2 linked regions of the Homo sapiens genome follow. The protein of the gene in region 1 purifies or fractionates together with the protein of each later gene. This does not show direct contact. Each region holds a gene or a part of one and is shown on either strand. Other genes may lie near its edges.

The links.
Region 2: the proteins of TUBE1 (region 1) and TEDC1 purify together in Homo sapiens (affinity purification with mass spectrometry; 2 studies listed by BioGRID and IntAct, with this or other methods). This does not show direct contact.

What each region holds. Positions count from the first base shown.
Region 1 is NC_000006.12:112,084,275-112,092,833, reverse strand, and holds the start of TUBE1 (tubulin epsilon chain), read left to right. Parts: upstream 1-5,351; 5' UTR 5,352-5,399; coding exon 5,400-5,424; intron 5,425-5,527; coding exon 5,528-5,601; intron 5,602-6,225; coding exon 6,226-6,278; intron 6,279-7,090; exon of another isoform or gene 7,091-7,139; coding exon of another isoform or gene 7,140-7,159; intron 7,160-8,559.
Region 2 is NC_000014.9:105,486,852-105,494,346, forward strand, and holds the start of TEDC1 (tubulin epsilon and delta complex protein 1), read left to right. Parts: upstream 1-4,394; 5' UTR 4,395-4,524; coding exon 4,525-4,671; intron 4,672-4,770; coding exon 4,771-4,849; intron 4,850-5,255; coding exon 5,256-5,458; intron 5,459-5,727; coding exon 5,728-5,883; intron 5,884-6,983; coding exon 6,984-7,082; intron 7,083-7,495. Other genes in the region: CRIP1 (cysteine-rich protein 1), read left to right, coding at 409-448, 1,315-1,409, 1,480-1,537, 1,620-1,660. UniProt on the Homo sapiens protein: Acts as a positive regulator of ciliary hedgehog signaling. Required for centriole stability. May play a role in counteracting perturbation of actin filaments, such as after treatment with the actin depolymerizing microbial metabolite Chivosazole F.

The sequences.
Region 1 (8,559 bases):
GTTCACTTCCAAATAACATTATACCACTTCACATATACTAGAAGAACCATATAAAAGTATATTCCATTTCCCCTCTCCCACTATATATAATTTTGTTGTCATATACTTTAATTCTATCTATAGTACAAACCCCATGCATGTCGTTATACATTTTCCTTTAAGCAATTGTCTTTAAAACAAGAGATGCCTTCTATATTCATCTACATTTTTATCATTTTCAGTGCTCTTTATCCCTTTGAGTAGGTCCAGATTTTCTTACAACATAATTTTCCCTTTGCCTGAATGTTTCATTTAACAGTGCTGGTCTGTTGGTGATTAATTAATTTAGCTTTTATATCTCTTTTTTTCATATTCATTGTGGAACAATATTTTAACTGGGTATAGAATTCTCAATTAGCAGTTTTGTTTTCTTTAGGTACTTTAAAGATTTGGGTCCACTATGTTCCAGCTTGCATTGTTCCCAACAAGAAGTCTGTTGATTTTTTTATCTTTGTTCCTCTATATGTAATATGTCTTTTTTATCTGGCTGGCTTTAATATTTGCTTTTTATCACTGATATTAAGCAATTTGATTACAATGTACTTGGCATAGTTTCTTTCTGTTTCTTGTGCCTAAGGTTCACCGAGCTTCTTGGATCTGTGGGTGCATAATACTTATCACATTTGAAATTTTTTTAGGCATTGTTTCTTCAAGTATTTTTTGTTCCCTCCTCTGGCATGCCAGTTACATGTATATTACACTGTTGAAAGTTGTCCCACAGTGCACTAGTTCTCCTTTTTAAAAAAATCTTTTTGTTCTCTGTTTTATTTTGCACAGTTTCCATTGCTACATCTTTAAGTTTGCTAATCTTTTCTTTTGCCTAATGTCTAATCTGCTCTTTATTCCATCCATTTTTCACCTTAGATATTGTACTTTTCATCTCTAGAAGTCTAATTGGGATCTCTTTTTCATATTTCTTTGTCCCTTCTCAGTCTGCCTGGGCTTCCTTCTGTCCTCTTGAACATATACTGCTTTAATGTTCTTTTAATTTTATGTAATTATTATGTTTACTAATTCTTTCATTTGTGCCATTTCTTGTTCTGTTTTTAACTAATTTTTCACCTCATTATGGGACTCATCTTTGCATATCTGGCAATTTTTGACTTGGGTGCCAGGCATTGTGATTTTACATTGCTAAACAATTTTATTTTTATTCCTCTAAGTATTTTTAAGTTTTGTTCTGGGACACAGCTATTTGGAAACAGCCTGGTTCTTTGGAGGCTTGGTTTCATGCTCTCTTAAGCTAGATTACAACAGCCTTTCATCCAGGGCTAACTTTTCTTCACTACTGAGGTACCTTTCTGAGTACTCAACTCAATGTTCCAGCTATTTTAAGGTTTCTCCACTCAAGATACGGGGAATGTGAATTAGTCCTAGCCCTATGTGAACCCTAGGAATTGTTCTGCCCGCTTATTTCCAGTGGTTCTTTCCTCAGTCTTACATAGTTTCCATGAATCCATGCAAGGATCAGCACTCAGTTTAGGCTCATGAGGAACTCCTTAAAGATTTTCAGAGCTTTGTTTTTGCATACTCTCTAACAAATAAAGAAACAGATAAAGAAAATGTGGTATATATACACAATGGAATACTATTCAGCCTTAAAAAAGAAGAAAATGCCGTCATTTGTGACAACATGGATAAACCTGGAGGACATTATGCTAAGTGATATTAGCCAGCCACAGAAAGAGAAACACTCCACTTAGATGTGGAATCTAAAAAAGTCAAGCTCATAAAAGTAGAGAGTAGAATGGTGGTTACCAGAGGGTAGCAAAGCTGGAGGGTGGGACAGGGATAGAGATCAGAAAGATGTCCAACGGATACAATAAGTTTCAGTTAGGAGGAATAAGTTTTATAGATCTATTACATAGCATGGTGACTAGTTATTAATAATATATATTTCAGAACTGCTAAAAGAGCAGATTTTAAATGTTCTCATCACAAAAAAATTCTGAGTATGTGAAATGATGGATATGTTAATCAGATTGATTTAATCATTCCACAATGTAAATATTTATCAAAAAATCAACTGTACCCCATTAATATACACAATAATTAATCAATTTAAAATCAAACAAATCAAAAATGGACCAAATAATGGCAGATCATCAGCCTGAGTGCCAGAAGGGGGATAACATAAAGCATAGCCCCCAGACACCCCTCAATGGACATGTATCATGTACAAAAAAAAAATTGTTGTTTTACACCACTGAGATTTTGGGGTTGATTGTTACCACAGCACAACAAAGTTTATGCTGATGTATACAGACTTTGGTCCAGACTTAGGTACCGCTATAACAAAAATCTAAAATATAAGTCACCATACCTAAGTGGTCAAGCAGCAATTAACAAGGAAACTGTTGTGGAAAGCTAAAAGGATAGTGATCTATGTCACCCAGGAACAAACCTATTGGGAAAAATCTTTGGAAAACTCTGTGATAACCTAGAAGGCATGTGATTTAACTAATGAATTTAAATGTTGGGAGAAGAGGCTGGAAAACAATAACATGTCAGTTGCTACTGTTTGTCAAGTTATATGAGAAAGAGATGAGCTCAGAAATGGCGGTGTGCAAGCAAGAATAAAAACAGACCACCCACAACTCTGAATTATATTTTAATGACAACTTACAAAAGCTACAGAATAATTTTCTTCTAAAACATTTTATTCCCCTTCAGAACTTTGCAGCATGTTTTCAATGCCTTCCAGTACTGAATGTGCTATATAGATGAGTCTAAAGTACTCTAATTAATTGTTTTTTCTTCATCCCACTCCCCCGTTCATTTCATGCCTAGGTACCTAAAAAATTCTCTCTTTATTCTGAAAAGTTGAATGCCTTAATGAGGCTGCATGTCTTGGTGTTGATTTTTCTATAAATTGTCCTATAGAACATAGTGTGTATCCTTTTAATCTATGTATTTTTCTTCCTTTTTTTTTATCAAGTACATTTTTTCCTCCATTTGCTGTGGGCACATGTTAATCTTATGTTGAGCCATCTTTGTCTCCTTCATACATATTATTTTTAATAACTTTCATATCTCTGGGTTTTGCCTAGTATTGTTATTATTTTAAGACTTTCCTCTACATTATAATTTGATGTGCATCTCTCTAGTCTGCTTCTTAAATGCTTTTAAAAATTATTTCTTTAAGTCCTTTAAGGTGGATGTTGTTGTCTTCAGTTAATTTCCTTAGTTCTTTTATCTCCATTTTATTTCATTTATTCATCAAATATTTATTTACTATCTACTATATGCAAGGTACTATCCCTAGTAGTGGATAAAACAACAAGACTCAGCCCTCATAGAGCTTGAGTCTTATTATTTTAGTATCTTGTCTTTAAGTTCCTGTTTTATTGCATTCATATTCTTAAGTTCTTCTTCAGCACAAAGTAGATATGATGAATTTTCTTTTCTCCCCTCTTAGGCTAGGTTTTACCCCAAGGTCTTGTACTTTATCCATCTTTTACATCGTTCCTTCCTTCCTCTCCCCCTTCCCTCCCTCTCTCCCTTCCATCCTTGTCTTCCTTCCTTCAATTTTAGGAGTCCATAGGATTCCCAATAATTTTTTTCTTTTTCATTTTCAGCATGTGGAATTCTGTTCACTCTATTTGCTCTGTATGTTGGTCAGCTATCACTACAATAAAACTGCACCCCAAAATTTCAGTAATTTCAACCAAAAACATTTCTCTTGCTTATAATATTCTGAATAGCCCGCTGCGGTTCAACCGATCTCAACTTGGCTCACCCGGGTTTGCATATACGGAAGTTTTGGAGTGGCTGGCATGTGAGGCTCTACCTTGCTTGGCTCTTAAGCAGAACTGTCTCTCAGTCTGATTCTCTAGAGACTGAAGTTATTAATAAGATGTGTTAGGACTTTTCTTTCCTGTGTGGGGAATAATGACTGGGACTGCATGAAGGGTAGGGCTCTGCAAAGGCCAGTGTATCATCTCACCTAGCACTGATAACACACTGATACAGACCTATTCACATCACTGCCTACAAACTGGACCAAGACTTGCAAATTTTGGAAGCCCCAGACGTTGGGACTTTAGCATCAAGACCTAAAATGCCCAACTTTACCTCTACCACTGACCCCATACTCAGTAAGAAGTTAAGAATAAATCCAGCCTACAAAAATTTACTGACCGAAAGCTGCCTATTACCAAAAGATATAAAATCCATTGCAACTTTAAACCTACCGGCTACCAGAGAAATTTAATAGTAACTACTACGTGTCTTGGTGGGACAATAAAGTGTTCTAATCCATTGAATATTACAGTTCATATTAGCACATATTCATAGCACATACCATATAACTTTTTATTAAACAAAGAAGACTTCTTAGAGTTTCGTAGTTCTTCAGAATTTTTGTGGAAAATATTAATTTCATTAAAGAAGTACTTGAGTTCTTAATTAAAATCTGGTCTAATTTGATCAATAGAAGTTTACATATTTTAATGTTTGACAATTTTAAGTAGTTGGTAATTGTCATAATGCCTAACTTTTTAATCTTCTCCTGCCTATCCCATCTAAATACCCATCTAAATGCCTAGTGTTAATCTCGTGTCTTCTATCAGACTTCTACATACTCATCTACATCCTCAACCACTGAATCCTATTGCACTTATAGTCAACGCCACACAATTCTTTAAGTATTTCGCGTGTATGTCTTCAATTAGATTGTAAGCTTCTTGGAACTGGATCTATGCCTTAATTTCTTTCTAATCTTCCCAGCGAGCCTACAAGTTAATTTGGGGAGTATACAGCGTTCAACAAATACTGGTTGGGTCTGTGACCTTAGCTTTGCCATTTTTGTCAAAGCGTATAACCATCTAGTTTCAATTGTGCCCTGACATGACTATTTCTCTGGGGTTTCTCTTTGCTCAACGCCATTGTTCATTTTCTATTAGAATAAAGGGCTTGTTGAACAGAGATGCCAACGCAGCGTCCCGTGGAATCTGAATAAACGGACTGATCCACCGCCCCGGGTGTTGAGGCTGTGAACAAAAATTAAACCTCTGATAGCCCACGAACAGCTTAACGACACATATTTTAAAATACCACTCCAAAGCCTAGTTACCTGCCAGTTACCCCGGCCTCCGGAGCTGCCGATGCTCGAAGATGTTGACAAGGCAGCTAGGATATACAGTCCAGAAGCCCAGTCGCTACGGTAACGGTGACACGCAAGTGCACTTGCGCGGCCTTCTGACGGAAAACCTTAGCCTGAACCTACAGACGTGCTTAGCGACGGCAGAGGCTTGCGGCAGTAGCGTGACTTACGGCAGCTCTCTAGCAGAGCGCCGTTGCTGGGGGAATGCAGAAGCGGCCGCGGGCTAGCAAGCTCCCGGAGCCGGCGGCGCACCACCATGACCCAGTCGGTGGTCGTACAGGGTAAGCTACGCCGGGCGGGTAGAGACCTGGTCGCCGCGGAATCCAGCGGCCATGTTTCCTGCTTAATGTCCTATTCTCTTTCCTTCCTCTCCTCCGGTCGCAGTCGGCCAGTGCGGAAACCAGATCGGCTGCTGCTTCTGGGACCTGGCACTAAGGGAGCACGCCGCGGTCAACCAGGTACCCGCCCGCCGCCGCGAGCCCCCTCGCCTGTCAGCTAGGTCTTCCAGCCCATACGCAGGAAATAATCGACTTGAGCTTTCATCTGACCCGTTTAAGATGCATGGGATCTTCCCAGTAAAGAACGTACTGGTTTTTAAACATGTTGCGTCAGACACACACTAAACTAAAAGAACACTGGCCAGCGACCTTAGTCTTAACGTTTTTCCTGATTCTCAGGGTCTCCTCTTTATTGGTGTTCGTGTGCAGAACAGTGAGATTTGTATATGGGAAAGTACTTTGTAAAATAGATAACACGTGTGGTTATTGTATTCCTTAATTTAACCAGTCAGCTTTTAAAAAGATTACGAAGAATCCAGAGAACGCTCATTTGATGGACCTGTCCTACAGTCCTATGGGTGAAATCCTTTCTTTAGCACCCCCTGCTGAACTTTTTATCTGTAGATCTGGCATTTACTCTTCTAAGGAGATTGGGAAGAGTCAGGCTCCGCATTTTGTGATACTTGGTTTTTCTTATCAGAGTCTCATCCTAGCCATTACAGTATTATGTAATTAAAATTGAAAGAACTTGATTTGGGCGAGAAGCAAAACCTAAATGCTATTAACATATGTTTTTCTTTTTAGAAAGGAATTTATGATGAGGCAATAAGCAGCTTCTTTAGAAATGTGGACACCAGGTAAGATGGGATTAAAGTCTGTCACAGTGTGATACTTTAAGTTTCAGTAGCTTGGGAGAGAATTCTTCAAAGGACAATAAAAATAGCCAGCTGCGAAGTTGTGTTTTTTTGTTTCATTATTGAAAGCATATTTATTCTATTAGATTATTAATATTCTTATATCATTTTCCCGAAGAAGACAACAGATTTCCCTTTAGTGTGACTTCTTTTAACTTAACCTTGAAATAAGTTTCATTAAAAGAAAGCTGAAATTTTCCCAGAGGGCATCTTGTTAATGCATCCTGTAATAACTAACTTTTGAAAGAAAAATATATTGTTTACATATATGCTGTAAGTATAAAAATATACTTAAAAAGGTGACAAGCAGTTGTTGGATTGTTTTTGTTTATTTAATAAAGAGTATATGTAAGTACCATATATGTTTTATCTGGAAGAGTAATTTAAGTTGCCGTTTAGGATATCTCCATAAGCTTTTAATATTAAATCATTAAGTTCATGCATTTTCAAAATACTTCATAAAACTAACTGTCCTGTGCTTAAACTGAAAAATACATACTTCGTGTCAGGCTTTAATCCAATAGGAACATCAGTTCTAGTTTAAAATAGTTGGCTGGGTGTGTGAGCAGTTATCTTCAGAGAAAGCTGATTAGTCCGCGCTTCCTGGGTGAATTCCAGAGTCTATCTAGGGCACTGGCTTGCAAACTCAGAAGTGTCATTGGCATCTCGAGATGGGTTCAGTGCTCTCCAGTACAGCCAGGTTAACCAAAGACCAAATTCTCATTTTCATAGGCACATTACTTTATCTTTTGTAGGAAATCTAACTGAAAAGCTGTGTAATAATCTGAAGGTTGCTTGGTGACCATGGAATCAGACCAAAGGAAGTTAGTTACTTTAATGGCTGGTATCATTTATATTTATTTTATGGAGATATCTGTCATATAGACTATAGATTCCCTCTTATTTGTAGCCCACAATATCCTCACCTCTAAATTCTCTTAGGAGACTCAAATTTGCTTCTGTCATACTTCCTTTCCGGCGCTTCTCTTGCTAAGTTCCTACACCCACCTCTTTACTTCTTGTTACCCAACGCTTACATTGAGTATTACATAGTTGAGACTCAGCCTGGGAGCTTTTCTTTCTTCATAAGGTGACTCTTCATAACTACACTCTCATCTACTCTGTGTGTTTTATACTTTAACCTGAGAGCACTATTATTTTCCCGGTAAGTTTGGCAAACAGGGTTGTGGCATCTTGCACTTCTTTCTGTGTACTATCAACACATGCAGCATCTGTTCCACAGCTTAGTACAAAAAATATTTTTCAAAGTAAAACCATATCTTTGTGTACTATTCTTATCAAATTTTTATACCTTTTGAGTAGCATGATAGGAATTTACCTACAGCATGGGTTGGCATGCATATATTTTCTGTAAAGGACCAGGCAGTAAATATTTTAGGTTTTGTGAACCATAAAGTCTTTTGCACCACTACTTGATCTGTAGCATGATTGTGGGCATAGGTAATACATAAAGGAATGGGTGTGTCCACATTTGAATAAAATTTTATTTAGGAAAACAGGCAGCTAGTTGAATTTGGCCTGATGATTGGCTACCCTTCATATATTCCGTCTTGTGAACTGTCTTTATTGACCCATATACTGCGTTAGATTTTAGTACTTTGGCAACTTATTTCCAACGTGAAATTCTGAGAACAACCTTAGATACTCAATGGTAAATACCAGTTATATCAGTTGATGGGTGTTAACTGCAATAGAAAACTACATTAATGGTGGCTGAGGCAGTAAAGGTATTCATTTATCTCACAAATCTGCAAATCAGATGTTCTAGGTTTAAAGGAATGCCTCAAAGATCTAATACTATATATGTTCCACTGTCCATAAGTGTGTTGGCTTTTTGTACTTGTATTATTACTTCATGACTATAAAATGGCAGTCTTCTCCAGGAATCACATCCATATTCAAGTTTGAGGCAGGAAAAAGAAAGAAGATAGGCACCAACTGCATCTGGTCCTTCTTTAAAAGCTTCCCAGAATACTTCCCCTTTATCTCATTGGCTAGAACTGGATTACATGGCCAGCCCTAACTACAAAGAAAGCCAGGAAACTAAGTACCTCACTTTTTCAGCCTAATGGGAGGTAAGCAAGGAAGAAAGAGATTAGGAATAGCTGTTGTGTCTGCCTTACCTGGCCTATAAGCAGTCTTATTATATAAATGGAAGTTAACTTTATCACCTGATAGTGCTATTAGCCATGGAAGATCTTAT
Region 2 (7,495 bases), on another chromosome or scaffold:
GGGGTGGGAGCGGCGTTTCCTGCTGCGGGTGAGCCTTTTGCCTCGGAACTGGACCCGGGAGACATCACAGCGCTGGGCTAGGGGCGCGGCTTGAACTCGCCTAAAGAGCTGCGCCCTCTCAGTAAGTCCCCATGGCCCCCTGCCCCCCCGCGCTCCGTCCTCAGTCAGGCCCGGGTCCTGCCTGAAGGCGGGGGTGGACCAGATGATCTTTCTTGGGCCCTGGGCCTAGATTCGAGGTCCCCAGGGTCCAAGTCCTGGGTTCAGAGGGCGGGGCGCGAGGGGCGGGGTCTCCAAGGGGCGGGGTCCCGGGGTCCCTGAAAGGCGCGGACCAGGCCGGATCCACCCAGTCTCGCGCCTGCAGCCCGTGCCGCCCCAGCCGCTGCCGCCTGCACCGGACCCGGAGCCGTCATGCCCAAGTGTCCCAAGTGCAACAAGGAGGTGTACTTCGGTGAGCGCGCCCACACCGGCCCCGCGAGGAGGCGCCGCCGACGGGGCGACGAGGCTGGGGACCGCTCAGGAGGACCGGGGGCGCTGGGTCCCTGGGGCGGCGCCCCAGCCTGAAAACGCCTCAGCCTGGCCCGCCGCCTGCCCCGGGATGAGGGTGGAGGCCCCTGCGTCCGAGGGCCCTGGCGATCTCTGCCTGCTAGTGGTCTTGCTGTGCTCGGCGGGCTACCTCTGGCTCTGAGCCTCCCCGTCTCTGGGTCCTACGGTCTCTGCCGTTTCCTCTCAGGCGCGCCCTGAGTGGGGGACCCGCAGGGCTGGAAGGAACGCGGGGCTGGGGCCGCGCCCCCCAGCGCTAAGTGGAAACAGACGCGGAAACCGACGCCCGGGGCGCGATCCCGGGCGCCCGCCTCCCTGCCCCGCGCCCGCGCGCCCCGAGGGGAGGGAGGAAGTGGGAAGTCACCCCTGTCCCCGCCGAGAAGGGCTGTCGCAGGCTCCACCCTTGCCACCGCAGAGGCCCGGGGCTGAAAGCAGGCAGCCAGGCCCAGGCCCTGCTGACCTAAGCCGCGACCCCTGACCCTCGGCCTCGCCCTCTAGCCCCACCCAGCCTTCAGGAGCAAGATTCCCGGCCGCACCCGAAAGTGCCCCGGGGACCAGCGACCCCGCGCTTTGTTTAGTTGTATTGGCTCTGGGGATTGGAGATGTTCCCCTCATGGAGGGTGCTGAGACCTTAGGGTGGGCTGCCAGGCTGGGCGGATGCGGGCTAAGTGCACAGGGCCTTGGGCAGAGCTGGCTGCAAGAGGCGGGTACGCCAGTGGTGGGTAGGCGCCGCGTCCTGCAGCGTCTCACCGGGGCCTGTCTGTGCCTCTGCAGCCGAGAGGGTGACCTCTCTGGGCAAGGACTGGCATCGGCCCTGCCTGAAGTGCGAGAAATGTGGGAAGACGCTGACCTCTGGGGGCCACGCTGAGGTAGGTGGGACCCACCCTGGTGGCAGGGGCCAGGGGTGATGGCACCCCCTCACGGCCCTTCTCTTTGCAGCACGAAGGCAAACCCTACTGCAACCACCCCTGCTACGCAGCCATGTTTGGGCCTAAAGGTATGCTCCCGTCATCCCCACCCCACCCCACCCCACAGCCTCCTCCACCCCAGCCTGTTGACTTTTTCCACCTTCTCTGCAGGCTTTGGGCGGGGCGGAGCCGAGAGCCACACTTTCAAGTAAACCAGGTAGGTAGGACCCCACCCCCTATCCTGCCTCCTGGTTCCACCCTCGGGATGGGGATGCCCCCTCCCAGGGAGGCCTGACCACTCGTGGGCCCCAAAGGAGGCCGTGGACGCTGCACTCACGTCTGTGCCTGTCTCTCTCTGCACAGGTGGTGGAGACCCCATCCTTGGCTGCTTGCAGGGCCACTGTCCAGGCAAATGCCAGGCCTTGTCCCCAGATGCCCAGGGCTCCCTTGTTGCCCCTAATGCTCTCAGTAAACCTGAACACTTGGAAAACCTGTGTGTGTACATGCGCGTGTGTGCTGGGGAGTGCCAAGGGAGCTGCAGTGGGGTCCTGGCAGCAGGCTCTGCCACCGGCGCCTGCTCTTCTGCTGCCCATTGCCCTCCCCAGGGGGCCGTTCCAGGGTCTCATAGGCGAGGGCTCCCTGTGCAGGGTGAGTCCAGGCCACCCTAGACAGCCCGCACCCAGCCCTGGCACTCTGAGTCCGCCTCGACAACTCCCAGATCCTCAGAAGTGCCTCTGAGCCCTCCTGGCCTTCTGGGAGTGGGGAAGGGGGGCTTTGCAGGCCACCAGCCAAAGGCTCAGCAGGCCGAGAGGCCTGGGGGCGGGCGAGGCTGGCCTCGGGTCAGAGGGTGAATCAGCTCATGCTGGCTCCCTTTCTGAGAGGCTCTGGGGGAGTTATGGGAACTCCTGGCCTTCCTCCTTTCCACCCCCCAACCCTGTCCTCATTCCCCACCCCTCCAGGCCAGGCCCAGCTTCTGCAAGGGCCTGATGAGGCTGCTCTGCCCCTGACCCAGGCACCACTGCCCCATGTGCGTCCTCATCTGCCATCTACCCTGTGCCCAGGGACTTACCCAGTGGCCCGGCGTCCAGTGGGGAACTTGAGTACCGGCCGTGCACAGGGGCTGGGGGGCCTTCTGGAAACTCCCTTGTCAACTCAGCCAGCCGCTGCTGACTGGCCACCTTCAGAGACCCTCTTCCCCACACTGGCTACTTAGATACCGGCCTTGGCAGAAGGCCACCCCTCCGGACACCCACTGGTTTAAAAGAGCCCAGGGGTCTGGCCCTGCCTTAGGGCTGTGGTGGGTGTGCTGCAGGCTCAGCTCGACAGGTGCTGTGGGGGCAGTCTAGGGTGGCCCGCAGGGTGGGGTGTGTGGGGGTGATTGGGGGATTCCTGGAATTCCAAGAGCTGGGAGCCACAGCACTTTTGATGGGATGGGGGCAGGGGGTGCTGAGGTGAGGCTGGTTTCTGGCTGGACGGTGGTGGGTGGAGCTGAGGGAACTGAGATCTTTGAGACAGCGACACCTGGTGCAGAGAAAAATCCGCAAGCTCGGGGGTTGGGAGAGCGCTGAACAAGGCCGCAGAGCTGCTCCGCCATCTCCCCCACGCCTCCTGCCAAGTTCTGTGGCGCCGCGGTTCCCCACCTCCTGCTCCCATCCCCCTGGCTCCCGCCGCCCTGTAGCTCGGCAGGTGCAGTAGGCGCTCCGAGGAGGAGGCCCCTTAGCTTCAAGAAACCCGCGTGGGCGGGGTGAGGAGCGCAGTCCTCCTACTGGCGCCGTGAAGGAGATCGCGATGCGCCGGAGGGAAGGAGGCTGCGGGCGGGGAAGGACGGAGGGCGTGCGGGGAGGGAGAGGAGGGGCTTGCTGGGGGGGGGGCCCCGAGGCGGGGCCGGGAGGGCCGCCTGGAAGAGGAGGTCGGGGGCGAAGGAGGCCGAGAAGAAAGGTGGGGCCGGGACCCCTCGGGCTGCGCCTCTCGTGGGCGTGTCCAGCCAGGGCTGGGGGTCCAGGGAGGACTGAGTTTCCCTCTCCCGCCGTCCTCGCAGCCCCGGGAGGTGCAGGGGCATCGCGGGAACAGCCCCGGTGACACGCTGCCCGGGGTCTTCACGAATGCCCGGAGGCGCCGCTGGCCAGAAGCCAGCCCGACCTTCCATCCCCGCAGACAGCCCCACGTTCCTCCCGGCCCGCGTCTTTCGGGGCCGCCCGTGCAGGCGGGCCCGGCTCAGCGGCGCCCGGGCAGCAGCTGCTTCCATGCGCCGGCTTCCTCCGGGGCTGCTCCGTGGCGGCGGCAGAGGGAAGCGCTGCCGCGGGCGGGCGAGGATCGGGAGCGCCTGAGGAGGCTGCCGCGGGCTCCGGCTGCGCGTTCGGGGCGGGGGAGCTGCCCGGGACTTCGCGCCAGGGGCCAGGGGCCGGCCGCGCTGGGGTCTGCGCTGTGCGGCGCGGCGGGCTCTGGGCGCCTCCTGGCGGCCCAGCCTGGAAGGCGGCGCGATGGGGCGAGGCTCGTCCGCTCCGACTGCGTAAGCGGCCCCACAGGGCGCCTTCCGGAGTCTGCGCGCTCCCGCCCGGCGGTTGCTAGGTTGCCAAGGGGCGTGAGGCGCTGATGGGTGGGGTCTGAGCGAGGCGGGGTGTCGGGTGTCGTGACGATTGAGCCTGCAAGGGCGGACTCTGCGGTGTTCTCCATATCAACAGCCCTGCCAGGAGCCCGGAAGTGGGTCCGCACGAGACAGAATAGACTACACTCAAACTCCAGGGGAACCGTTCATTGGGCTTGGACACGAAGGCGGGACCCTGCCGACGCAGTGATTGGATGCATGTCCGGCCAGCGCGGTGATTGGGTACAGGTCTCGGGAGCGCGGTGATTGGGTACAGGTCTCGGCCAGCGCGGTGATTGGGCGCAGGTCCCAGCCGGCGCGGTGATTGGGCGCTGGACCCGGCCCGTGCCATGATTGGGCTCAGGTTCCAGCCGGAGCGGTAACTGGGCGCAGGTCCCAGCCGCCGCACTAAACCCGGCCCGTGCGGTGATTGGACGCAGGCCCCGGGCCGCGGCGGAGGCGGGCGATCCGAAAGAGGCTGGTGCTGGCTGCATGGGGAGGCGGCGGCAGCGGGTGGACCCCGCGGCTGGGGCCCGGGCCGGGGCCCTGCCTGAGGCCATCGCCGCGTTGAGTCGGTCGCTGCCCTCGGGACCCAGCCCCGAGATCTTCCGCCGCGCCAAGTTCGACCGTCCGGAGGCGGTGACGCTCTCGCGGAGGGCAGGCGGGCCGGGTGGGGTCCCGGGCCCTCGCAGGGAGTTGGGCCGGCTCCGCTGACCGCCCGCTTTTTATTTTCCGCAGACCTCCGCGCTCTGGCAGCTCCTCTTCCGTGTGCTCTCGCCACTCCCTGCGGGCAACGCCTTGGCATCGCTCGCCCTGGGTAAGCCCCGCTCCTGGCCCCGCCCACCCGGTAGCACTGGCCCCGCCTACTCCTGTAAAGCCCCGCCTTCCCCAGTAAGCCCCGCCCCGGCAGGCTCTAGCCCCCACCCAACACTGACCCCGCTTGCTCCTCAAAACTCCGCCTTCCCCGGTAAGCCACGCCCCCTGATGGGCCCTAGCTCCACCCCCTTGGGTAGCACTGGCTTCTGCTCCTACAAAGCCCTGGGGACGTCCCTGTTGGCCCCTGGTCTCCTCATCCTGGTCTGAGTTCTAGCTCTCCCACTATCATCTCTTCTGAACTAGGCCTTGAGCTTCTGCTCAAGTGACCTGTGGGGGTCTCTGGAGGGATCCAGGTGGTGTCACCTCCAGGTGGGTGGTCCCCCTAAGGTGGTGGTCTTCTGTCCTAGAGGTCCAAGCCCGCTTGGTGAAGTCAGCACTATGCTCCCAGGGCTACCCGAGGCTGGCACTGGCACAACTACCTGAGGATGGCTCGCAGGGCAGTCGGGAGCTGCTGCTGGCTCTGTCCTGGCTCTTGGCCCGAGGACCTGTGCCCGAGCAGATGCTGGCCCAGGCCCGAGTGCCTCTGGGTGACGAGATGACTGTGTGCCAGGTGCGTGTGGGTGAGGGTGAGCTGAGCCAGCCCTGGTCTCAACTCCTGGGGCCAGAGCAAGGGCAGGCCTGGGTCAGCCCCCTCTGTCTGCTTTGCTCCTCAGGGCAGTCCCATGAAGGGTTACCCAGCTGCCCAGCTGAAAGCACGGAGGCTCCCTGTGCAGGGAGCACCCGTTGTTTTTGGCTGTGCCTCCACTACCGTCTCCATCCTGGCCTTTTCTGGGGGGCAGGGTGGGGTGGGAGCAGGGCCTGACCCTTGCCCCTCTCCAGTGTGAGGCCCTGGCCAGCCCTGGCCCACCTGCACCCCACATGGAAGCAGAGGGTCCTGTGGATGTCCGCCATGTGCAGTGGCTGATGGGAAAGCTGCGGTTCCGGTGGCGCCAGCTGGTGTCCAGTCAGCAGGAGCAGTGCGCCCTCCTGAGCAAGGTAGAGCTGGCACAGGGCTTCCACTCAGGGGCTGTGTCCCGTGCTGCAGGCCGCCAGCTGCCAGTCCCTGCAGCCCGTCCCGTGAGGCCTGGCACAGGCTTTTGGCTGGATGTGGGCCTTCCTGCCCTGGCTTACCCAAAGCCTGAGCCCGTGGTTCCCGGTGGTCCTTGTAGGGGGCAGGGCTGGGCAGGGAGCCCAGTGGGGTGGGCAATGGTGGGCAGAAACGGGTGTCAGAGAGCTCACAGAATTTGCCTTTCTGTTCCCAAAAGTTACCAGTGGACTTCCAGCTCTGTGAACAGTGGGATGGGGTCTGTGCCATGAAAGCCACTCCCTCCTGGGCACTGGAGGGGGAGGAAGACAGCTCCTGTTGCCACCACATCCTGGTGGGGGCTGACTTGCGGGGTGGACAGCTCCTGTGGGGTCCTGAAGGTGGCAGGGGCTGGCTCAGGGGCACAGGTACCCAGTGGTGTGTCCACTGTGAGGCCAGCGCTGACAGGTGGGTCTGTGGCAGCGGCGGGCTCCCACCAGCGCGGGACTCCTTGGAGACCCCCCCATCCCACCCTTGCAGAGGGTCTGTTGCTCAGCTGGCCTTTCCAGGGACCTCTCACCCCGTCGGGCCTGGCCTTGGCACCAGCTGCTCCGCTTACTTATGTGCCTACCTGTGACCCTCTGTGCCACCTTCCAGCCTCCCTTTTTTGGGGAGCCTTCCCCATTTCCCTAGATCCAAGCAGTCGTTCATGTCCCCACTGTGAGCCTGGCTGAACTGCTGTGCCTGTCCAGAGGCTGTTCCTCCCCCGATGCTGCTGGGGAAGCCAGGGCACCCCACTCCAATCTTGCTGCTGCTTGGAAGCTGGGCGGGGTGGGGAGGCCATCAGTGAAATTGCCTGGCGCCCCCTTGCAGGAGACCCCAGCGGTGCTGATGGTTGTTCTGCACCCAGCCCAGCCCCGCCAACCTCAGGCAAGGAGTGGCTTTCTCTGAGCCCTCTTTCCTCATCTGGGAGGTGGGCTCTGATGGCCGACCTCCCTGGACTCATGGAGACTCAGCGTTGGGGGAGGTGCTTGACTGCCACTCAGCCTGGGGTCTGCACTACCTGTTTTAGATCCACCTGTACACACGCGGCTGCCACAGCGACCAGAGCCTTAGCCATCTGTCTGTCACTGAAGCAGAGATGCTCAGGGACCCAGAGGGAGGCCAGCAGGTGAGGGCGGGCAAGCTGCTGCGGGGGGGTGGGGGTGGGCTGGGGGGCACAGCAGGGGGACTGCCCAGGGTGGGAGGGGCCTGGGGGCGGGGCAGCTCTTGGGCCTCCAGCGGTGGGTGTCTCTGCATGTCTGCCACTGATCATTGCCAGCCTGGGTGACAGACAGCTTCTCTGGGCCTCTCCTAGCCTCATGGGCCACTCACCCTTCCCTTCCACAAATCAAGACGTGGCACGGGTGGGGGCCCAGGACGCAGGAGCCTGGGCTGGGCAGGCAGCTGGCTAAGGGCAGGCTGTTGGAATAAAGGAACACAGATCTCAGGTGTGAGCTGGTGGTGTTGGCATCTCAAGCAGGTCTCACTTGGTGTGTCAGGGGGCACCTAGGGGTGTGGGGGGCCAGCCCACACTGGGTGAAG